Regions from separate parts of the Homo sapiens genome. Here region 2 is linked to region 1. A link means that fine-mapping ties the variant in region 1 to the expression of a gene that starts in the linked region. Tissue or cell type: whole blood. Region 1 holds a variant in brackets; the other region holds the start of a gene. All regions are shown on one strand. Distances are from middle to middle.

Evidence for each region. PIP is the estimated chance that this variant, and not a neighbour inherited with it, causes the effect.
Region 2: PARP12 starts here. The variant in region 1 is fine-mapped to the expression of PARP12 in whole blood (TOPMed, PIP above 0.99).

The regions. Positions count from the first base shown.
Region 1 is chr7:140,029,088-140,040,381 of GRCh38, reverse strand. It overlaps PARP12 (poly(ADP-ribose) polymerase family member 12), which reads left to right. Exons shown (of 12, transcript NM_022750.4): 7 at 2,526-2,667; 8 at 6,051-6,147. Among named protein-coding and RNA genes, the nearest start is that of PARP12, 28 kb to the left of the region's middle. RefSeq lists a silencer at 3,821-3,870. The variant G/A (reference allele first, on the strand shown) is at 6,728.
Region 2 is chr7:140,058,101-140,068,974 of GRCh38, reverse strand. PARP12 (poly(ADP-ribose) polymerase family member 12) reads left to right here and starts at 6,024. Exons shown (of 12, transcript NM_022750.4): 1 at 6,024-6,453. The coding sequence starts at 6,128. RefSeq lists an enhancer at 5,877-6,086 and a silencer at 6,097-6,416.

The sequences.
Region 1 (11,294 bases):
TCCTTGCTTGCTGCTCTGCCCTGCCTGCCTTTCCCACCTGTCTCCCTCCCGTCGTGGGCGACCTGGGACTCTCTCTGACCTGCCCTGTGGGACTCATCCAGATAAGCTCTCTGGGTTTGGTCAGGAGCGTGAGGGGAAGAGGCTGGCGTGACATGGAGGAGGGGGAGAGGATGACTGCCCAATCATGCTCCGGGAATCCCGGCTCTCCTGGAGATGGAGGGACAGATGGCAGGCGCAACACACTTAGCAGATGTGACCATCACGTTCATTCTGTTTGGGGATCTGTCCGGCTTCTCGGAGGAGACCGCTGGTTGCTGAATGAGATGACACAGGGCTCTGGGCAACCCATGCAAAAGTAGGGTTCCCCGGTGGTGTCTCATCACAGCTCTGGTTGTTGGGGCCGGTCTCCTCCAGTCAGCCAACACCTGGAGCGTGCCCCTTTCTTTCCTGTGCTCCTCTTCCTCTGTGGCAGTGCAGAAACTCATGGCGAGCAGTTTGAGAATGTCTGGGGATGAACCGCGTGTGGATGTTATTGATATGCCACGTGCTAGTGGGGGCGTAGAAACACATGTAGGCTTGGTGGCTTCAGGCTGGACAGCCTAGGATGATCTGGTTTGTCTTGTCCTCCCTTTCCTACACGTTTCTGGTATAACCCCACATTTAGGTTTCTTTTTTAGTTTTCTGTTAATTGCCACTTCAAAACAGTTTTCTCTTGATTCCCAGAAAAGCTAAGTTTTTTCTGTCTGAGCTCAAGAAGTACTCCAACATTTCATGTCAAAATCAGACACCTGCTGGTCCTGCCACAGGACATGTGGGAATCTGTCATTCCTTCCACATCTCACTTGGTGCCTCCAGGTGCTAAACCGAGACCTTTCTCAGCTTAACACATAATATGGCTGCCATTGTTGGTTTCTCCTTCCAAACCTCCCACTGAGGGCAAAAAAACTCTTTGCTTTTTGCTTTCTGCTCATCCACCTGCATCTTCCCTCCCTCTGTGACCATCCATCTGCAGGGATTTTGACTGGAGGCCTGGGTCGGGGCAGGACGCCTGCATCTGACTGCTGCTTCTCCTCTCTGTTTCCCTGACTCAGAGCTTCATTTCCTCAGGCCCAAAGGGGAGGGATTGTTTTCTTTTCCTTTCCTCTTGTTGTCAGAAAGGGATTTTTATGCCACATCCTCTTCCTCCCGGACTCTAGTCTAATGGCTTGGTTTTGAAGGAAGACAGACTTCAGAGAGAGAAACTTAGGCGCCGCTATGAGACCGTAAACTAGGAGGCTGCTTTACAAACCATTATACCTCTTACACCCGCCCCTTATGGTCCTCATGGGGCCAACTCATGTCATCCCTCGGGCTTGGGCCTTGGCTCAGGCATCTTTTTCTTCCAAGAAACCTTTGCTGGGTCTCACCCTTCCTTGGTCATTCTTAGTTACCCATCTCAGCGTCTAGAGCACCCGTGAGACCTGTGTGGGACCTTGTGCTTGAGGCTTTGAAATATCTGGGTACTTTTTTTTCCCCTTCTCCATTGCTGGACTCAGTTGCGCAGAGGCATGGGTGACTCTTGTCTTGTCTCACTTTTGTTCTGTTAGTAACACCTAAAGCTTGTGACCCAGGAGAACTAGGATGGTAGCAGTAGGGGGAGCAGGAAAATTGACAGGGACAGAGGGAGTTAGTTGGTTATAGGTTGAATAACTTTAATTTTAGTTGTCAGTGTAATCTCAAATTTAATAAGAACGGTGATGATAATAGTAACATTTATTGAGTATGTTTTGTTCTGGGCACTGTACTAAGTGCTCCACATGCCTTATTTAAATGATTTCTCCAGCCCTGTGAGGACAATATAGTCCTGTTGTATAAAGGGATGAATATGGCCTAAGTACTATTATTCATATTATAAGCTTGAGATAACGGAGGCTCAGGGAGGTTAAGATAACTTGCCAAAGTTATAGAGCCAGCAGGTTTGGGAGCCAGAATTCAAACTCACTCCAGCTGAAGCTACGAGATTTCCTGTAGGTAATTGTGGAAGGATAGGGATTGAAATGGATAATTTAAAAAATAGATGAATGCTCCTAGGGACCAGAAAAAGAAAACCGCAAGGAAGAGGACCGAGCTCTGATTAAAGGATGGTTGCAACGTGAATAGACGGGTAAGACCAGCCTGGCTTGGGCTGCCCAGTCAAGCAGCACTCCAGAAGTCGCTGTTGCTGTTCTGCCGGCATTTGAATGGCTGCCGTGTCCTCTGTCCTAGGTGACTTGAGTGCCCTCCTCTCCGTTGCTCCCATCCCTGTCTTCCTGCTCAGCAGGACCCATATTTACTGCATTGTGTTTGCTAGGGCAGCTTCAGGAGACAGTCATGTTGCCTCCATTCTGTGCCTCTCTCTCCTGCCATACCATGCTCCCTGGCCTCCATCTTCCCCACCACAGGACTGTCCACCAGGAGCACCTCTGAAATGTGGCGTGGGTGCCACCAGCGTTTTTCCTCATCACGCAGTTTCTTGCCTTCATAAAGTGTCTGGCTTTCCATCGCAGGGCACGGTGCACCCTGTGACCACTGTCAGCAGTAGCGACGTGGAGAAGGCCTACCTGGCCTACTGTACACCGGGGTCTGACGGCCAGGCAGCCACCTTGAAGTTCCAGGCCGGAAAGCACAACTACGAGTTAGATTTCAAAGGTATCCTGTGCCCTGCCCTCGCCCAGCAGAGCCTGCCTGTGTTGGCTCTGTCCCTACACCTTAACCCTGGAGGAGCCGTGTGCACATACTGAGGGCCTGGGTGGGTACAGGAAAGAAAAGCAAGGTACCAGGTCCAAGGTAGACCTGGAGACAGATGACACTGGCCCTGTGCAGTGGAGGAAGAACTGCATCAAGGATGTGAGGAGAATGGACCCCAGGAGGGGCAGGAGCCCCAAGTGTGGAGGACAAGCAGGGTCAGCATGCATGTAGCATGGTTGTCCTGCTGTATCCGAGGACTAACCTGAGTCCCTGACAGGTGTCCGAGCAGCTCCGTCGTGCAGTGTCTGCCTTTCACTCCCTGCTGCAGCAGTGCTGCTGTCATCTTTTTTTTGAGACGGAGTCTCGCTCTGTCACCCAGGCTGGAGTGCAATGGCGTGATCTTGGCTCACTGCAACCTCCGCCTCCCGGGTTCAAGTGATTCTCGTGCTTCAGCCTCCCAAGTAGCTGGAATTACAGTCATGAGCCGTCACACCTGGCTAATTTTTTGTATTTTTCATAGAGACGGGGTTTCATCATGTTGGCCAGACTGGTCTTGAATTCCTGTCCTCAAGCGTTCTACCCACCTTGGCCTCCCAGTTTGCTGGGATTTCAGGCATGAGCCACCGCGCCTGGCCTGCTGCCATCTTTTCTGTAGGCGACTTTGGAGTTGATGGGTTTAACGGATGGTAGGACACAGAGTAATTGAAAGTCCCTGAGAAGCAGATTTTCGTGCACTCATGGTGTCCTGAGGCTGGGGCTGAAATGTTTCATCCTGGTTGCCTTACAGAGAGAAATAGGCCACCCTTTGGCCAGTTCCTCCAAGTGGCTGATGTGTGAGAATTTTTTTTTTTTTAAGTTTTAATTTTGTGTAGTTTCTCTTAAGCCATTTCCTCATGAGTGTATCGGTCCAGCTTTATTCAGTTCCGTTTTGCCTGTATTTCACATTTTAAACTCTGAGTCCTTCTGAATGTTCAGCATTTTATAAGGGAGTAAGTGGGCCTTCCTTTAAACACAGTTTATGGTTTTCTTTATTTTTGCAGACGTTTATTCTATGTGGAGTATAGTGAAGTGTCTGGTGAATTATCCTAAAACCACTTTGGCTGTCTGTTTCTGGCCTTGGTTTTGCTTGTGGTTTCGTGGCACTTGTGGTTTTGCTTAGGGTAGATCACTACCCCCTTGACATGCCCTTTACGGTGAAGTTTTTCTCCTCTAGAGTGCGAACTGCCTCTGCTGGAGAGCGCCAGCCACGTGTGGTCTGGTTTGCTTTCCACGGCCTGACACACACCAGTGCATGAGAGGGGACCAGTGAGAGCATAGACGTTAATCAAATCAGGACTGCCCTGAAGGTCAGGACTGTGTGGCAAGCATACATCTGACTGCTGCTGACAGCAATCTGGAATATTTCTTTTAAATATCTGGAAAATATCAAAACAGATAGAAATGTCAGATACTACCTTGATCATTCCCAACCTAGGCCACACCCTGGGGACATAACAGAACCTCATAATAGGGATGGGGAAGAGCACACACGTGCAGTTTATGATTCCTGCAGACTGACCGAAGCCCATTTGAGTGGGCACAATTCTTCTCCTTCTCCTCCTTCTCCTCCTTCTCCTCCTTCTCCTCCTTCTCCTCCTTCTCCTCCTTCTCCTCCTTCTCCTCCTTCTCCTCCTTCTCCTCCTCCTCCTCCTCCTCCTCCTCCTCGTCCTCCTCCTCCTCCTCGTCCTCCTCCTCCTCCTCCTCCTCCTTGTCCTCCTCCTTGTCCTCCTCCTCGTCCTCCTCCTCTTCCTCTTCCTCCTCCTCTTCCTCTTCCCCCTCCTCCTCCTCTTCCTCCTCCTTCTTTTGGTAGATACCAGTATCCATAAAAGAAGCTTGAGATGAATTGGCTTCTTCCCCCACAACTTCACTTCTAAGTATAAAGCAAGTCTCAAAGCAAACTGCCACACATATTTATTAGCTGTTTATTAGGAAGCAAGTACATTTAAAACACACAAAAGAGCCCAAATGAGTTGTTCTGAAGGTTTAGGGATGATTCAGTTCTGCCCTTTTAGGGACTCTTGTCATAAATGATTCACTCAAGGCAAATGCCAGGATTCCAGAGGCAGAATTCTAGCATCCTGTTAGGTGGTGTCTGACGGGGCAGAATTCCCCAAAGACAGGCTGTAGCCTAGGGTATCCTCTGGAAGGGTAAATTAGGGAAAAGACCTCACTTTACTGTGTCCATAGAAGGGTAGGGAATGTGTCTGACACACATTTAGCCAGTCCACGTATCTTAGCTCACTTTTAATTTCACCAGTGAAAGCCATTTAAGATTCATCACAGATGGCCAGTAGGCCAGTAACACCCATTTAAATATGCCAGTGAGAATGGTCTTGATGGGCGGCTGAGTAGTGGGTAACAGAAGGGGTCATGGTTGCTGCATCTGGATCATGGGCTCTGAATGAGAATGTGGATGGACCTCCAGGAATAGTGACCATCTCAGCTGCAACCTAAGAGACACACACTTGGATAACCATCCAGTTTATGCTCAACTGCAATAAGGCTAATTCTGGACACCTATAATTTTTAATATTAAAATGTTTTGTAAATGAAAACAAAATTAGTTGGGCATGGTGTCACAAACCTGTAGTCCCAGCTACTTGGGAGGCTGAGGTGGGAGGATTACTTGAGCTGGTGAGTTCAAGGTCCACTTGAGCAACAAAGCAAAAGACCCCATCTCTTAAAAAAAATGTAAGACTTGAGAGGGTTTTCCTGGCAGGCAAGGACAGAACAAACACTGCTAGGTATTTGTCATTTTTCAACTTGAGGGGCCAGTTCCCCCAACCCCAAATCCTCAGGATGAGTATGGGATTCTTGAGGGTGGGGAAGCAAGAAATTTGTTTATTAAAGATATTATTGGTTTAGAAAGGTTGATGAATACTGCCATAGTTTAACTAAAACAAAGTCATAAAACTTACATTAACTCTGAATCCCACTAACTCAAGACATGGTAGTTTGATCTCAGGCTGGGCTGAGGCTTTTTTATATCCAAGCTGGGAAAAATTGCCAAGCAAAATAATGGTTTAAACAAGATTGGAAGGAACAATTTAAAAGCACTCATGTGTAATTGATATGTCAATTACTAATCATTCCTCTATTCATTAAACCCAGTCTCCTAAGGATACCTATTTTCTTTATGAATATTTGAAATGTGTAAAATGGCCCTATTTTTAACAGACTGATTCTGGGTTTTACACATTTGGATAAGCTTTCAAATCTATCTAATTTGTGTTTATAAAACATTGCCATCCTGTGTGTATGTATATGTATATGTATATTTTTTCACTGGTTATGTTTTTTTTCAGCCTTCGTTCAGAAAAACCTGGTCTATGGCACAACTAAAAAGGTTTGCCGCAGACCCAAATACGTGTCTCCCCAGGATGTGACGACCATGCAAACCTGGTAGGTTGCAGTGGGGGGCTTGGTACTTAGGATGTAATCAGCTGGGGTGTGCTCTGCAGTGGTGACAGAAAACCTGCCTCAGACAGCACCCGGGCACCGTTGGCTTGTACAACGAAGTGCTCCCACACTCTGTTATCGTTTGTCTTCTACTAGTTGGACCAGAGTGGGAATTACCCTGTGGGTAGAAGCTTCGTGATGCATAATTAGAAGGCTGCCTGTTGTGATCTGCGATGATTCTCTGGAGAAGACAGACTCTGAAGGCGAGTCTAGACTTGAAGCCAACCCATCCGTTTGTCTTTTCTGTGGAATCATTGAGTCATAGACTTGAATTTTTTAAATGTTGAAATAATGAAATAATGATGGAATTACACCAATAAAAACTCATGTATTTTAGTATTTGAATATCACGGAATACCAAAACTCTAAAAACAGATATTGCAGTCACTAATGGGCGAGCTTCGTCAGGGTGAGTTTCTTTCAGTCCCAAGATGGCTGCCAGGAGCCACCAGGTTAGCCTGTGGCCTGTGAGCCCCTAGAAGGGAGGAGAGAAACCTCCTATAGCAGATGAGGGGAAATTCTT[G/A]TGCTTTGTACTGATCAGACCCTATCTCAACCTCTGGTGTTATTTTAGGCTTGGGGAGGTGGGATGGGATTGGAACTGAGAGGAAGGGGTCAGTGTTCTCCAAACCACACAGCCACATATTGGGGGAAGGTGGCCTGCATGGTGGAGAGGGACCACAGTGCCCATACAGTTTGGGCTTGCCAGAGCCAGTGCTGGGACTTTAGGCAGTGTTACTGGTAGCTGGCTGCACCTTCTGTTCGCCTGAGAGGTCTGGCTTGTGTCTATTTTATGGAGAACCAACAATGTCTCTTTTGGTTCTTTTGTTTTGTGAAGCATGCAAAGGTCGTTTTTAAATGAGTTTGGTACAAGATAGAGGAGAAAGGTATTATCAGTCCACGAAACTGCCTTGTGAGTCAGACCTAGCAAAGTAATTTCCTGGGAATGTGCCTTACTTTTTCCTTTTTAAATTAAAATTTATTTTTGCGCTGGGTGCAGTGACTCACACCTGTAATCCCAACAGTTCAAGAGGCCGAGGCGGGTAGATTGCTTGAGCCCAGGAGTTCGAGACCAGCCTGTGCGCCTGTAGTCCCAGCTACTCAGGAGACTGAGGTGGGAGAGACACCTGAGCCCAGGGAGGTCAAGGCCGTAGTGAGCCAAGATCACACCACTGCACTCCAGCCTGGGTGACAGAGTGAGACCCGTCTCAAAAATAATAATTATTATTATTATTGTTTTTGACTATGTGTAAAACCTTCACGTGATTAAAAGTCAAACCTATATAAAATGGTATCCTCTGTAGACTGTAACTTCCTCCCTGTTATCTCTACCCTGTTCCCACTGTGGGTAACATTAGTTTCCGGTTTCTCTTTTTTATGTTTCTCTTTGCAAAAATAAGCATTTGCATACATACATATAAAAGTATTTTCTTCTTGCACAAAAGGGAACATGCTATCTATACTGTTCTATACCCTTTTTTGTTTTCACTTAAAAATAGATCATGATAATCACTTTGTTTCAATTCATTAACTTCCTCAATCCGTTTCTTCTTTCCTGGTTCTCTGTAATATGTATGTACCATAGTTTACTTAATATGTCCCCTTTTCATGGATGTTTGTGTTGTTTTCAGTCTTTTGCTATTAAAAAGTATAATGTCGTGATGAACCATTTGATGTATGTGCTGTTTCAAATTTTGGAGGTATGGCCAGGTGCGGTGGTGCACACCTATAATCCCAGCACTTTGGGAGGCCAAGATGGAAGGATCGCTTGAGCCCAGGAGTTTGAGACCAACCTGGGCAACATAGCGAGACCCTGTCTCTTTTTTTTTTTAATTAAAAAAAACAAATTTTGGAGGTCGACTGTTAGGTCAGAGTCGTAGGAAGTAAACCAAATTCCTTTCCATGGGCTTGAATCATTATGCACACCCACTAGGACGCATGAGATGCCACAGAGTGAGTTGTCAGGCTCTTGGGCTTTTGCATTTCTCAGGGGTAAAGATGGGTCAGTGGACTTCAGTTTGCTCTCTCTTAGGAGTGAGGTTGAATATTATTTCTAACATGTAAGTGCCATTTTTGCTTCTTTTTCTGTGGACTGTTGGTCTTTTTATCCATTTTTCTATCAACTTTCTGGTATTTTTCTTAAATATCAAGAGCCTTTTATCTATTAGGGAGGTTGGCCCTCGTTTTGTTATATAAATGGCAAATATTTTCTCTTAGTTTGTTGTTTGCCTTTTGACTTTGCCTGTGAAGTATTTTACCATAAATATATATCTCTTATTATTTTAGTTAAATGTATCAGTGTCTTACTGATTCTGGATTTAGAGTTTTGGTTGATTATGACCCTCCTATTTCTGGAAGTCATTTTTTATTCTTTTCCTATACAAAGCCTACCCTAGACAAGGTTTGGAAAAGTCTCTCTGCTTTCTGAGAGTAGATCTCTCTTATTCTAATTTAGTTTTTAGGGGGCCACAAGAAGATGCCAAATGTCCAAACTAAAAGTGATTCAGACTAAGATATGGGTGATTTGGGGTCTCCTGTAAGCGGAGTGTCACACACTGTTCACACAGATGAAGTGTTCAGTTCTTCTCTCTGACCCATGTGCCAGCAGCTGGTTGTCATTAACTCCAGTAAGCAAGTCTGCCTGGGCCTGCATGGCCAATTGGGAATCTGAGGGTAGATCACTTTCAGAAACAACTTTTCTGTTTACACAATTAATGAGGTCATAAAATGTAATGTCCATATTCAGAAGTCATAATACAGGAGTGTCATGTAAAATTTATTTATGTATTTATTTATTTATTTATTTATGAGACAGGGTCTCACTCTGTCACCCAGGATGGAATGCAGTGACCTGATCACGGCTTATTGCACCTTCCACCTCCCGGGCTCAAGCAATCCTCCCACCTCAGCATCCCAAGTAGTTGGGACCACAGGCATGCGCCACCATGCCCAGCTAATTTTTTTATTTGTTGTGGAGACAGGGTCTCACCATGTTGCCCATCCTCTATGAAAATGTTTCATTCATGTGATTGGGTCTTATTTTTTCTTTTCTTACCTTCTTTTGTGTATATGTATATTTTAAAGGCTATGGTAGAAACTACATGTTCTTCACTTAAGTACAAGTAAATCAATATCTTTGCCCTCCTATCTTTTCTTCCATTTGCCTTCCTCTCAACTTTTTTTAAACCTCAAGAGGCACCATTATTTTATACTCTGAAAGTTTCATTAAATTTACTCACATTTTTACCACTTTGTCCTTTCAGATTACCTTAGATCAGGGGTGTCCAATCTTTTGGCTTTCCCAGGCCACATTAGAGGAAAAAGAATTGGTCCACACATAAAATACACTAACACTAACGATAGCTGAACTAAAAGAATAAAAACCACAAGAAAATCTCATAATGTTTTAAGAAAGTTTACAGATTTGTGTTGGGTCACATTCAAAGCTGTCCTGGGTTACATGCAGCCTGCGGGCTGCAGGTTGGACAAGGCTGCCTTCGATGAAGATTTGTTGGAAAACTGTTTTTGGTTTGTCTGAATATGTATGTACGTATGTATGTATGCATGTATGTATGTATGTATTTTGAGATGGAGTCGCACTGTCGCCCAGGCCAGAGTGCAGTGGCATGATCTTGGCTCACTGCAACCTCCGCCTCTTGAGTTCAAGCGATTCTCCTGTCTCAGCCTCCTGAGTAGCTTGGACTACTGGCGTGCGCCACCATGCCCGGCTAATTTTTGTATTTTTGGTGGAGATGGGGTTTCATTATGTTGGTCAGGCTGGTCTTGAACTCCTGATCTCAAGTGATCTGCCCACCTCGGCCTCCCAAAGTGCTGGGATTACAGGCGTGGGCCACTGCGCCTGGCCAACATGTATTTATTTTGCCATCAATCTTGAAGGAAATTTTCACTGGGTATAGAATTTTGGGTTGTAGGGATTTTCTCTTGGATCATTGTGATGATCACTCCACTGTATTCTGGCTTCCACTGTTGCTTTTGAGAAATTGCCTGTTGGTCTAACAGGTGCTTCTTTGACAGTAATCACTCTTTTTTCCTTTGGCTACTTTTAAGAGCTTCTGTTTGTCTTGGAGGTAGGCATCCTCACTAAAGTGTATCTAAGTATGTGCTTTTATTTATCATGGTTGAGATTCTTTGGGCTTCTTAAGCTGCGGATAGGTGCATCTCATCAGTTCTCTTTGAAAATCGCCTCCACTGTCTTGTCTCTCCTCTCCTAGAGCTTCACTTAGGTTCTGATCATATTCAAGTTCTCACTGTTCTCCATGTCTCAACTTCTTTCCTGCATTTTCCATTTCCTTGTTGCTGTGGGCCACATTCTGGACAATTTCATTTCACATATGTTTCAGCTCACTGATTCTTCCTCCAGCTGGTCTAATCTGCTATTAAGCCTGTCCACTACACTTTTATTATTAAAGATTGTACTTAATTCTGTAAGTTCTATTTGGTTCTTTTTTAGATCTTCCAGGTCTTTTTATAGTTTCCTGTTCCTTGCATATGTTTTTAAAGTTTGTCTTTTTTTTTCCTTTAAACATAGGAAGAATAATTGTTTTGTAATCTCTCTGATAATTTCAGCATCTTAAGTCTTTGTGGGTCTGTTTTTGGCTGATTCTTGCTGGTAGGACCTTGCTTAGTTATTTTTGAACTGTGCCATTTTCCCAGGAAAGTTATTTGTGGGAGTTCTTTGAGGCTTAGGATGAAGGTATATGTTTCATGCCAGCAGAAACAGAAGGTAGATCTATTTAGAAAGAACAGTGTATTCTGAAACTTAATAGGAATGATTTGTAATTATAGTTTCACAGTCCTTGTTCCTGAACCCTTGATCCATATGTCTTTTGAACTGCTTTTATTTAATTTTTAGAAAGATAATGTGATGCTTGTATCACGTGACACTCTGTATTTTAGCACATTAATATTTCTGCAGTAAACAATATGCATAGTCAGTTTAAGAAGGATAGATACAGATCACAGTGGCCTCTTACTAACTTCAGTCAAATTTCTACTGCCAAATGACTTTTGATGTCACTTTTATGTTTTTCAAAAAATGTTTTATTTCATATTTTCTCCTGCTTTTCCTGAGC
Region 2 (10,874 bases), 29 kb before region 1:
TGACTTATTATTTAGAAGTATATTTTCTAATTTTACATATTTGTGAATTTTTCAAATTTCTGTTATTGACTTCTACTTTTATTCCATTATGGCAAGAGAACATACTTCATATAATTTATTTTACGATTCTTGAGACTTGTTTTATAGCCTAGCATCTGGTATATCCTGGAGTATTTTCCATGTACACTTGAGAAGAATATGTGTTCTGCTCTTGTTGGGTGAAGAGTTCTATAGATGTCTTTCAGGTCTACTTGGATTATAGTATTGCCCTTCTATATCCTTGCTGATATTTTGTCTGGTTTTTTATTCATTATTGAAAGTAGATATTAAAGCCTCCAACTATTATTGTTGAATTGTCTATTTCTTCCTTCAGTTCTGTCAGTTTTTGCTTCATGTGTTTTGGGACTCTGTTGTTAAGTGCATTTAATTTATATTTATTATATATTTTTGGTAGATTCTTTGATCATTATAAAATGTCCTTCTTTATCTCTAGTAAGAATTTTTATCTTATGTCTATTTTGTCTGACATTAGTATAACCACTCCGGCCCTCTTTTGGTTACCATTTGTATGGTATATTTTTTCCATCCTTTTACTTTCAATCTGTTTGTCTTTGAATCCAAAATGTATCTTTTGAATGCAGCATACAGTTAGGTCATGTTTTCTATTTTTGTTGTTTGTTTTGGTCCATTATGCCCATCTCTATTTTTTAATTGGAAAGCTTAATCCATTTACATTTAATGTAATTACTAATAAGGTAGGATTTGTCTGCCATTTTTCTATTTTTTCTACGTCTTTTGTCTTTTTTTTTGTTTTTCAACTCCTCTAGTACTGCCTTCTTTTGTATTAAATAGATATTTGCCAGTGTGCCACTTAAATTATCTTATCATTTCTTTTTTTTTCTTTCTTTCTTTTTTTTTATTGAGATGGAGTCTCACTCTGTTGCCCAGGCTGGAGTGCAGTGATACGATCTTGGCTCACTATAACCTCCACCTCCTGGGTTCAAGCGATTCTCCTGCCTCAGCCTCCTGAGTAGCTGGGATTACAGGTGCCTGCCACCACACCTGGCTAATTTTTTGTATTTTTAGTAGAGATGGGGTTTCACCATGTTGGCCAGGCTGGTCTCGAACTCCTGACCTCAGGTGATCCACCCGCCTCGGCCTCCCAAAATGCAGGGATTACAGGCGTGAGCCACTGTGTCCGGCCTCATGTATTTTATTGGTTATTGGTTGCACTAGGAATTACCAGCAACATCTTAATTTATAAAAATCCAGTTTGGATTAATACCAATTTAATTTCCACAGAATATAAAAACTGCTTCTCTATGGCTTCACTTTCCTTCCCCATTTCCTTCTGCTGTTATTGTCACAAATTACATCTTCAAAACATTGTCCATCAACTTATATTTGTAATTACTGCATTATGTAGTTGTCTTAAATCAGATGATGGGGGTTACAAACAAAAAATACGTTTATACTGTCTTTTTCATTTACCTGTGTAGTTACCTTTACTGGTGCTTTTCTTTCTTCATGAGAATTCCAGTTGCTGTTTAGTGTCTTTCACTTTCAGCCCAAACGACTCTCTTTAGTGTTTCTCCCAGTGCTAGCAACTAACGGGCTCAGCTTTAGTTTATCTGGGAATATCTTAATTTCTCCTTCATTTCTGAAAGATAGTTTTGCTGGATATAAAATTCTTGGTTGATTCTTTTCACATTTTGAATACATCATCACACTACCCTCTGCATGCATGGTTTTTGATGAGAAGTTAACTGTTTTTATTTTATTGTTGATTCCTTGTGCATGATGAGTTGCTACTTTCTTGCTGCTTTCAAGATTCTCTTTGTTTTCAAAAGTTTGATTATGATGTGTCTAGGTGTAGATCTATTTGAGTTTTTCCTACTTGGAATTCATTAAGCTTCTTGGATGTGTAGATTAATGTTTTTCATCAAATCTGAGAAATTTTAGCCAAAATTTCTTCATATATTCTCGCTTTCCTTTCTCTCTCTCTCTTCTCCTTCTAAGACTTCCATTTTGTGTTATTGGTATATCTGATGGTGTCCCACAGGTCTCTGAGGCTCTTTTCATTTTTCTTTTTCGTTTCTGTTCCACAGACCAGATAATCATCAATTGATCTATCTTCAAGTTTGCTGATTTTTTTTTTCTTTCGCATGCTCAAATCTGCTGCTGAACCCTTCTAGTGAATTTAACATTTCAGTTATTGTACTTTTTGGCTCCAGAACCTTTATTGGTTCCTTATTATAATTTCTGTGTCTTTATTAATATTCTGTTTGGCAAGGCATCATTCTCATCCTTTCTTTTACATTTTTAGAGATGGTTTCCTTTAGCTCTGTGAACATATCAAAAATAGCTGATTTACACTCTTTGTCTACAAAGTTCAGCATCTGGGTTTTCTTAGGAACAGTTTTTATTGATTGCTCTTATTTCCTTTGTATGGGTCTTACTTTCTTGTTTCTTTGCAAGTCACATAATTTTTAGTTGAAAATTGGACATTTCAAACAATGTGCCAACTCTCAAAGTCAGATACTCCTCTCTCCTCAGGGTTTGATTGTGCTTATTTTAGTATTAGGTTGGTGCAAAAATAATTGCGGTTTGCACCAACCTAATAGTTGCTGTTTAGTAACTTTTTTGAACTAATTTTTTAAAGTGTGTATCTTCATTGTGTGTGACTATTGAAGTCTCTACTTGGTCAACTAATGATTAGATGGAGATTTCCTTAAACACCTGGAACCAATATGTCTCCTAGTCTTTGCCAAGGGGCTCTGTATGCACTTTGGGGTATGTCTTCAATTTTCATTAGGCAGTTTGCAACTCTGCATAGCTTTTATTTCCTGCTAGCACAGAGCCTCAGTGTCAGCTAGTAGTGAGAGGTTAGGATCTTCTCAGGTGTTAACAGAGCATGTGCACAGCCCTACACATGCACATGGCCTTCTAAATTCCTGAAAATATACTGGAGCTTTTCAAAGCCCCTATGGACATCTCTTCCTTCAACGTTTCCTTTTACATTTCTTTGTTAGTCTATTGTTTGCCCCTACCGTTACCTATTGCCTCAGCCAGTTACAATGTTAAAATATTTGACAAATCACTCCCTCTTCAGGTGGAAAAACCTTTAGGACTGAGCTAGTTCCAAAGAGGTTGAATAAAGACAACCCTTTTCAGGATTTTTTTCCAGGGACCCACTAGATAGGTTAAATAATGACTCTTCTTTGGGAATGAGACTTTGAAGTAGCTCCAGCCCTGTCTCCTCCCTCTGGTACAGGTACTAGGAACGTGGGCTGTAAGTTTTCAAGGCTGCCATGGAACTAGAGATGGGGGTGCGATAGGACTAGGGTAAATTAAAATACTATAAATATTGCTGTTCTTACTGAGAGTTTGCTGTTTTTCCTGACTAAATGCCAGATGGGTTGCTGCAAACCTGTGACTAATTTCTAGGGCTCTAAGAAAGTTGATTCTGACAATTTTTGTCAGTTCTTTCCTTGCTTCCTTTATGGAAGGGCAAACTTGCTGGGATACTTAATCCACCATTTTCACTGACATCACTCTTCCTTTCTTTTTTAAAAAATGTTATTTTATTGCAAAAAAATATGGAAACCACAACTAAAATTAACTTTTTTTTTGAGACGGAGTCTTGCTCTGTTGCCCAGGCTGGAGTGCAACGGTGCGATCTTGACTCACTGCAACCTCCGCCTCCCTGGTTCAAACGATTTTCCTGCCTCAGCCTCCCAGGTAGCTGGGATTACAGGCACACACCATCACACCTGGCTAATTTTTGTATTTTTAGGAGAGATGGGGTTTCACCAAGTTGGCCAGGCTGGTCTTGAACTCCTGACCTCAAGTGATCCACCCACCTCGGCCTCCCAAAATGCTGGGATTACATGCGTGAGCCACTGCACTCTGCCTAACATTTTAAATTAAAAATTAACATTTTAGGCTAGGCGTGGTGGCTCACTGTAATCCCAGCACTTTAGGAATCTGAGGTGGGAGGACTGCTTGAGGCCAGGAGTTCAAGATCAGCCTGGGCAACAAATGAGACAGTGTCTCTACAAAAAAATATAAAAATTATCTGGGCATGGTGGCACGTGCCTCTAGGCCCAGCTACTTGGGAGGCTAAGGTGGAAGGTTCGCTTGAGCCCAGAAGTTCCAGGTTGTAGTGAGCTATGACTGTACCATTATACTACAGCCTGGGTGACAGACCAAGACCTTGTCTCTAAAACAATAACAAAAACAAAATTAACATTTTATACAATGAAAACATTAAAATCACAATTAAAATCCAAGAGAAAACCCTTCATTCAATTTCCTAATTAAATAAATTCATTTTCATTTGTCCATGTTACTATCTAGTCTTTATCCATACACTTATTATTTACATTTTTGTAGTAATAGTACAGGTAATTTTTTTTTTTTTTTTAAAGATGGAGTCTCACTCTGTCGCCCAGGCTGGAGTGCAGTGTCATGATCTCCGCTCACTGCAATCTCTGCCTCCCGGATTCAAGCGATTCTCCTGCCTGTCTCCCGAGTAGCTGGGATTACTGGCGCCCGTTACCACGCCCGGCTAATTTTTACGTTTTTAGCAGAGACGGGGTTTCACCACGTTGGCCAGGCTGGTCTCAAACTACTGACCTCAAGTGATCCGCCCGCCTTGACCTCCCAAAGTGCTGGGATTACAGGCGTGAGCCACTGTGCCTGGCCTATAGTTAAGATTTTTATATTCATTTTTAGTGAATGTTATACCGTATACCGTAAGTACTCTCCCCCCACAATCCTTCTGCCTCTCATCTTCCCTTTTCCATTTTCCTAATACCTCCTACTGCCTCCTCTCAACTACCCTTGTGTGTTTCTTCATCTTTCTCCGTGCTTATTCAAAAATATCCTGCCACACACACACACACAGGCTTCTCTTTTTGTTATTCAGACATTTAAAAAAATTAATTCTTGATCATTCAACTTGATTATTTAGACATTTCTGTACAGCCATCTTTTCTCGTTTACCACCACATCATGGCTGTCTGCCCCTCTACATCCGCACACGGAGCTCTAACGCATGCTTGTTAAACAGCCTTCGTAATAGTCTTTAAAGATCAACCACACTGTTCCCACGTAACCCTACCTCCCAGGTAGGGTTCCCCCAGTAACACTTTCACACATAACTTATTTACTGTTCCTTTTACTTCTGGAAGATTCCGAGAGGAAAGATTGCTGGGTCAAAGGTCACACGCGTTTTCAATTTTAATAGCTATTCCTGGATTACCTCCTCAAAGGGCTCTAACAACTCGCATTGCTCTCAGCGTGTGAGAGGGTCCTTTGCTCTGAAGGGTCTTCTAAAATATTTGTTCAATCGTTACTTAGCAGGGGCTGGGAGTAACGGATTTTATTTTATTTTATTTTATTTTTTGAGACGGAGTCTCGCTCTGTCGCCCAGGCTGGAGTGCAGTCGCGCAATCTCGGCTCACGGATTTGCTCTTTTAAAGGACATACCCTTTTATGTTTAAATGAAGGAACTCATTGATGCACCGAGGCGAAAGGAACCTTTAATTAAGTGCGTCTTCTATGCGGAGTGATCGCTTTTGTCACTTGTTCGAGGGGTGAGAGCTCCCGTCAGTTGTCCCTGTTTCTGTGAGCCGTCTACGAAGCCCGGGCTTGGCCTGGGCGACGCTGAGCGGCTTTAACCGGCGGCGTCCAGCCGGCTCCGCCAGCGCTGCCGCCGCCCTCGAGGCTCCCTCTGACTGAAGGCGCGCTGAGCATCGCGGCATTAGGGGCTCCTGGTCCCTCAAACATCCAGGGAAGCCATTTTCAGGGACTAGGTACTGACCCCCGCGAGCCGCCACAGCCACAGCCCGCGCTCCGGGCCGAACGCCCGAGCTCAAGAGCTCCCGAGCTTCCGTCGGGCGGCGGCCTCACAGCTGGGGGCCCTGAGGCGGAAGGCGCAGCCGCTCAGCTGCGGACCGGGGGCGTGGCGAGGGCGCACAGGTTCTGTTTTTCGCCGGCCCGGGGCCGCTTTCGGTTTCGTTTCCCGCCGGCGTCTCCACCCTGCGAGAGCCGCCCGCCAGCCAGCGTCCGCCGCCGTCCGCGTCGCGCCACCCGCGGTCCGACGGGAGCAGGCCCAGCGGCCATGGCCCAGGCCGGCGTCGTCGGTGAGGTCACCCAGGTGCTGTGCGCGGCCGGGGGCGCCCTGGAGTTGCCCGAGCTGCGGCGCCGCTTGCGGATGGGCTTGAGCGCCGACGCGCTGGAGCGGCTGCTGCGGCAGCGTGGGCGCTTCGTGGTGGCGGTGCGGGCGGGCGGCGCAGCCGCGGCCCCGGAGCGCGTGGTGCTGGCCGCCTCGCCGCTGCGCCTGTGTCGCGCGCACCAGGGCTCCAAGCCGGGCTGCGTGGGGCTCTGCGCGCAGCTCCACCTCTGCAGGTTCATGGTCTACGGCGCCTGCAAGTTCCTGAGAGCCGGGTAAGGCGCCGCGCCGGGAGCGACGGCGGGCGGAGGTCCTGCGCGCCCTCACGCACTTCCAGCCCGCTTGGGGGTCCTACTTGAAGTTTGAGCAGACAATTCGGTGGCTCTGCCCTGACCTCGCACCGTCATTCACTAAAGCGAGCGTTTAATGAGCACCTGCGGAGTACCTGGCACAGTGCGAGGGACTCAGGGTCGAGTGGGGTCCTCTAGACGCCTGGGGGGAGAGAGTGATTTACATAGAGCATGGTAGTGCCGGGTGGAACACCCGGGTGTGGCCGTGTGGGGTGGGGAGGGAGGGAGGCGGCGGCTTAGGGGAACTCCACGACGCCGCGGGTCGCCCCTTGCCAGCTTTGAGGCCAGACAATGAAGGTTTTCTCTGCCCAGCAGCTGGTAGAGATCTTTAAACCCAGTTCAACCCTATTAATCTGCTTACAAACTGGAAAATGCAGACTCCCTGCCATCGCCCACAAGGTCCTGGGGCACTGGTCCCTGCCCACCCAGGACCCTTCTGTGACTGGAACACCCCCCCCCCCCCGGGCATTTCTGGGAGCCTGGGCATTTCTGGGAGTCTTTGCTCTGCCTGGAATGCCCTTCTTGCTCTTGGTTGGCCCTATTTGTTAATCCTTCAGGCCTCAACCTAAAGATCACATCCCATTTGAGGATTTTTCCTCCCCTTACTCTTGGTCACAGGGAACTGTTTATTTTCCTCATGGCACCCAGCTGCCAGTAGAATAGAAACTCCCTGAGGGCAGAGGCTCCAGCTGTCTCCCCAGCACTTAGCGTCCATGTTCTGTGCATAGCATGTGGCCAGTGGGATGTGTGGAAGGGATTGCTGAGGTTTATGCTAAAGAATTTGGGCCTCACCCTGGAGGTGATGGGGCGGGTAAAATGGCAGGAGAGAGCAACCATCAGGTTTGCGTTTTAGGAAGTCTAAGGTAGTGGTGTGGGTGCCAATTTAAGGGAGGATGTTGTGGGGGAACCACTGGGAAGCTAGTCATCAAGGAGAATTCCTTCCTCCCCTGCTCCCTCCTTTCTTGCTTGCTCCCTGTTTTGTGTGTGTGTGTGTATGTTTGTCTTAATAGAGTAGATATTTCTTGCTCATGTCAGGCCCAGTAGTGAGCATGGGGTGGGGGCCTTGATCCATACAGTCATTCAGGGATGCAGGCTGACTGACCTCCGCTCTGTGCCCCTCAGCACATGGCTCTTGAGGCCAGCCTAGGTTATCAAGTTCGAGGGGGCTGATCGAAAAGAGGGATGCATGGGAGGTTTTTGTGGGCCAGGTCTAGAAGTGGTGGATTTCCTTTCACCCACATCCCATTGACCAGAAGCTGTCTCGTGACCCTGTCTAGATGCAGGGTGACTGGGAAATGCCTCTAGGAAGCAGCTGTCTGGAAGTATCTAGATTAGAGCTTTCCAAGGGCTATGTGTGTGAGAAATTTGGGATAGCTGGTGACGGTGTGATGAGAGGATATGTGAGAGGTGACGACTCTTCAGTCTCTGTTCCTGCGGTGGCCTGGGTGTTGTTCACTGAGAGAGCAAGAGAGGGTTTTAGTTTGGAAGCATGCCCAGGAGGCAGCTGTTCAGGTCAGAAGCTTGGGAGGAAGGCCAGGGCCCCAATGCGCTGGGCTGGTTTGGGAGATATTGGGCGGTGTATGTTGTAGTTGCAGCCCCAGGAGTGGATCAGATCTGAGGTAGCGTCTGAGGCCTGAAAAGAGGCTGAGGGTGGAACTCTGGGGAAATCAGCCTTCAGGGATGAGGCAGTCCAGGGGAGAGCAGGGAACAACAGCCCACGAGGAGGAAGGCACACAGCAAATGGTGGCTGGATAGAGCCACTCATGGGGGTAACTGGTAGATCTGTTTCATGTTCATATTTGGTAAAATAAAGATGGCAGCCCTGTTCTTAAGCTAGTTCCCAAAATGTGGGGTCAGGTCTGACTTGTCTCGGAAATCTGTAGTGTGATATTTACTGGCTCAGATGACCTTGAGTTTTCTTCTTTCTTCAGTTTTCTCTTTTCCTTGTGGTTTACACAGGTGAGTTTCTTGAACCTTCCATTTCTGACTCACTTTAGGGAGAGTGGGTGTGGTTGGCTGCACTTTTCTGCTTCCCCTGTGACTCTGCTTGTCTTCCTGAACCGCAGGGTCAGTTCTTTTAGAAATAGCTCATCAGTCCTGCTGCAGAGCTGGTACGGAGTCCTGGGTGCCTGACTCTTAGTCCTCTACTCAGGAGGCATTGAGCCTGGTGGTCTAGGGCACAGTCCCAAGATCCAGCCCACCTTGTTTCAACCTGGGCTCTGCTCCTTGCTAGCTGATGGCTTCGGGCAAGTGACTTTACCTCCAGGTCTCAGTTCCCTCATCTGCAAAGTGGAGTTAATGATATTACTACCCTCACAGGCTGGTTGAGGACTGAATGATTAACTCATAAAACATTTTGGCAATCCCCGATATTTGGCAGTTGCTCAATAAATTTTAGTAGTCATTATCATTGTTACCATCAGTCATCGTTACACTTATTAGATATATTTGGCTCTGGCAGCACCAAATTATTTGCCCCTCTTCTGGAATGTTCTTCCTTTCTCTTGCTGTCTCCTCCTCACCCTTTAAGTATTCCACTCAGGCTTTATGCCATCCAGCATGCTCCCCTGATTTCTTCCCCAGTTCTCTCCCAGCCCTGACTGGCTCAGGTGCCCTTCCGCTCTGCGCTGACAGATTCTGACAACAGCTGACGTTGCACTTTCCACTCCGTATCAGAGTCTCCTCTATGTCTGTCACCTCCGCTAGATGAGGGAAAGAGAGCAGGCAAGGATGGCTTCAGGGTTTTTGGTCTGTGCAGTGGGAGAGGGAAGTTGCCTTTTACTGAGCTGGGGGATTCTGTAAAAGGTGCAGGTTTGGGGTGGATCAGGGTTTGGCATTCTCCTGAGATGTGGCATAGGAGGCATGGCAGTGCCAGAGTCAAACAAATGCTGTTGGCCTGACTCTTCTGGGTCCTGGTGACTCAGGCAGTCATTTAAAGGTTTATCTTTGGGTTCTCAGGGCATGGTGCCAATGTCTGGCTCACCCTGGTGCTTATCAGACGCTTGTGGATGGAAAGAATGGAGGAAGAGAGCAAAAAAAAAAAAGCTAGGTTCAGGGCTCTGTGTGTGTGTGTGTGTGTGTGTGTATACACGCCTGCACGCATGCACATATGTAACCTATAATGATAAGATGCCATGCTCATTGATTCAGCCTGTGGCTAACTGCTTACCGACTGACTGCTGTGCAGCAACTCCTCTTTGTCATTCTCATCAAATGCTTGTTCAGAGGCGCTGTCCTGGGCCTTAGACCTTGCAAGGCCCCATCTCCTCCTTGGTAAATACACATTGGATTTTTTGTTGTTGTCATGTAGACATGCTGGTTTTTCTTTTTTTCTTTCTTTTTTTTTTTTTTGAGACAGAGTCTCGCTCCTGTTGCCCAGGCTGGAGTGCAATGGCGCAATCTTGGCTCACCACGGCCTCCGCCTCCTGGGTTCAAGCGATTGTCCTGCCTCAGCCTCCTGAGTAGCTGGGATTACAGGCATGCACCACCTCGCCCGGCTAATTTTGTATTTTTAGTAGATACAGGTTTTCTTCATGTTGGCCAGGCTAGTCTCGAACTCCCGACCTCAAGTGATCCATCCACCCTGGCCTCCTAGAGTCCTGGGATTATAGGCGTGAGCCACCATACCCAGCCTACATGCTGGTTTTTCTCTGGTGCTTGTAAATACTGTCAGGAAGTGTTTCTGAAAAATTGTCATGAAGACTGATTTTATCAGCTTTCAGTTTGCCAGCGCTGCCATAACAAAGTACCATAGACTAGGAGGCTTAAACGACAGAAATCGATTTTGTCACAGTTCTGGAGGCTAGAAGTCTGAGATCAAGGTGGCAGGGTTGATTTCTTCTGAGGCCCCTCTCCTTGGCTTGTAGATGGCCACCTTCTCACCATGTCCTCGCATGGTCTTCCCTCTGTGTGTGTCTGTGCCCCAATCTCTTCTTTTTTTTTTTTTTGAGACTGAGTCTCACTCTGTTGCCCAGGCTGGAGTGCAGTGGCTCACTGCAAGCTCCGCCTCTCGGGTTCATGCCATTCTTCTGCCTCAGCCTCCAGAGTAGCTGGGACTACATGCGCTCACCACCACGCCCCGCTAATTTTTTATATTTTTAGTAGAGACGGGGTTTCACTGTGTTAGCCAGGATGGTCTCAATCTCCTGACCTCGTGATCCTCCTGCCTCGGCCTCCCAAAGTGCTGGGATTACGGGCATGAGCCACCGTGCTTAGCCAAATCTCTTCTTATAAGGACAGTAGTCTTGTGGGTTTGGGGCCCACCCTATGGACCTCTTTTTAACTTAATTACCTCTTTAGAGACCTTCTTTCCAAATAGAGCCATATCCTGAGGTCGTGGGAGTTAG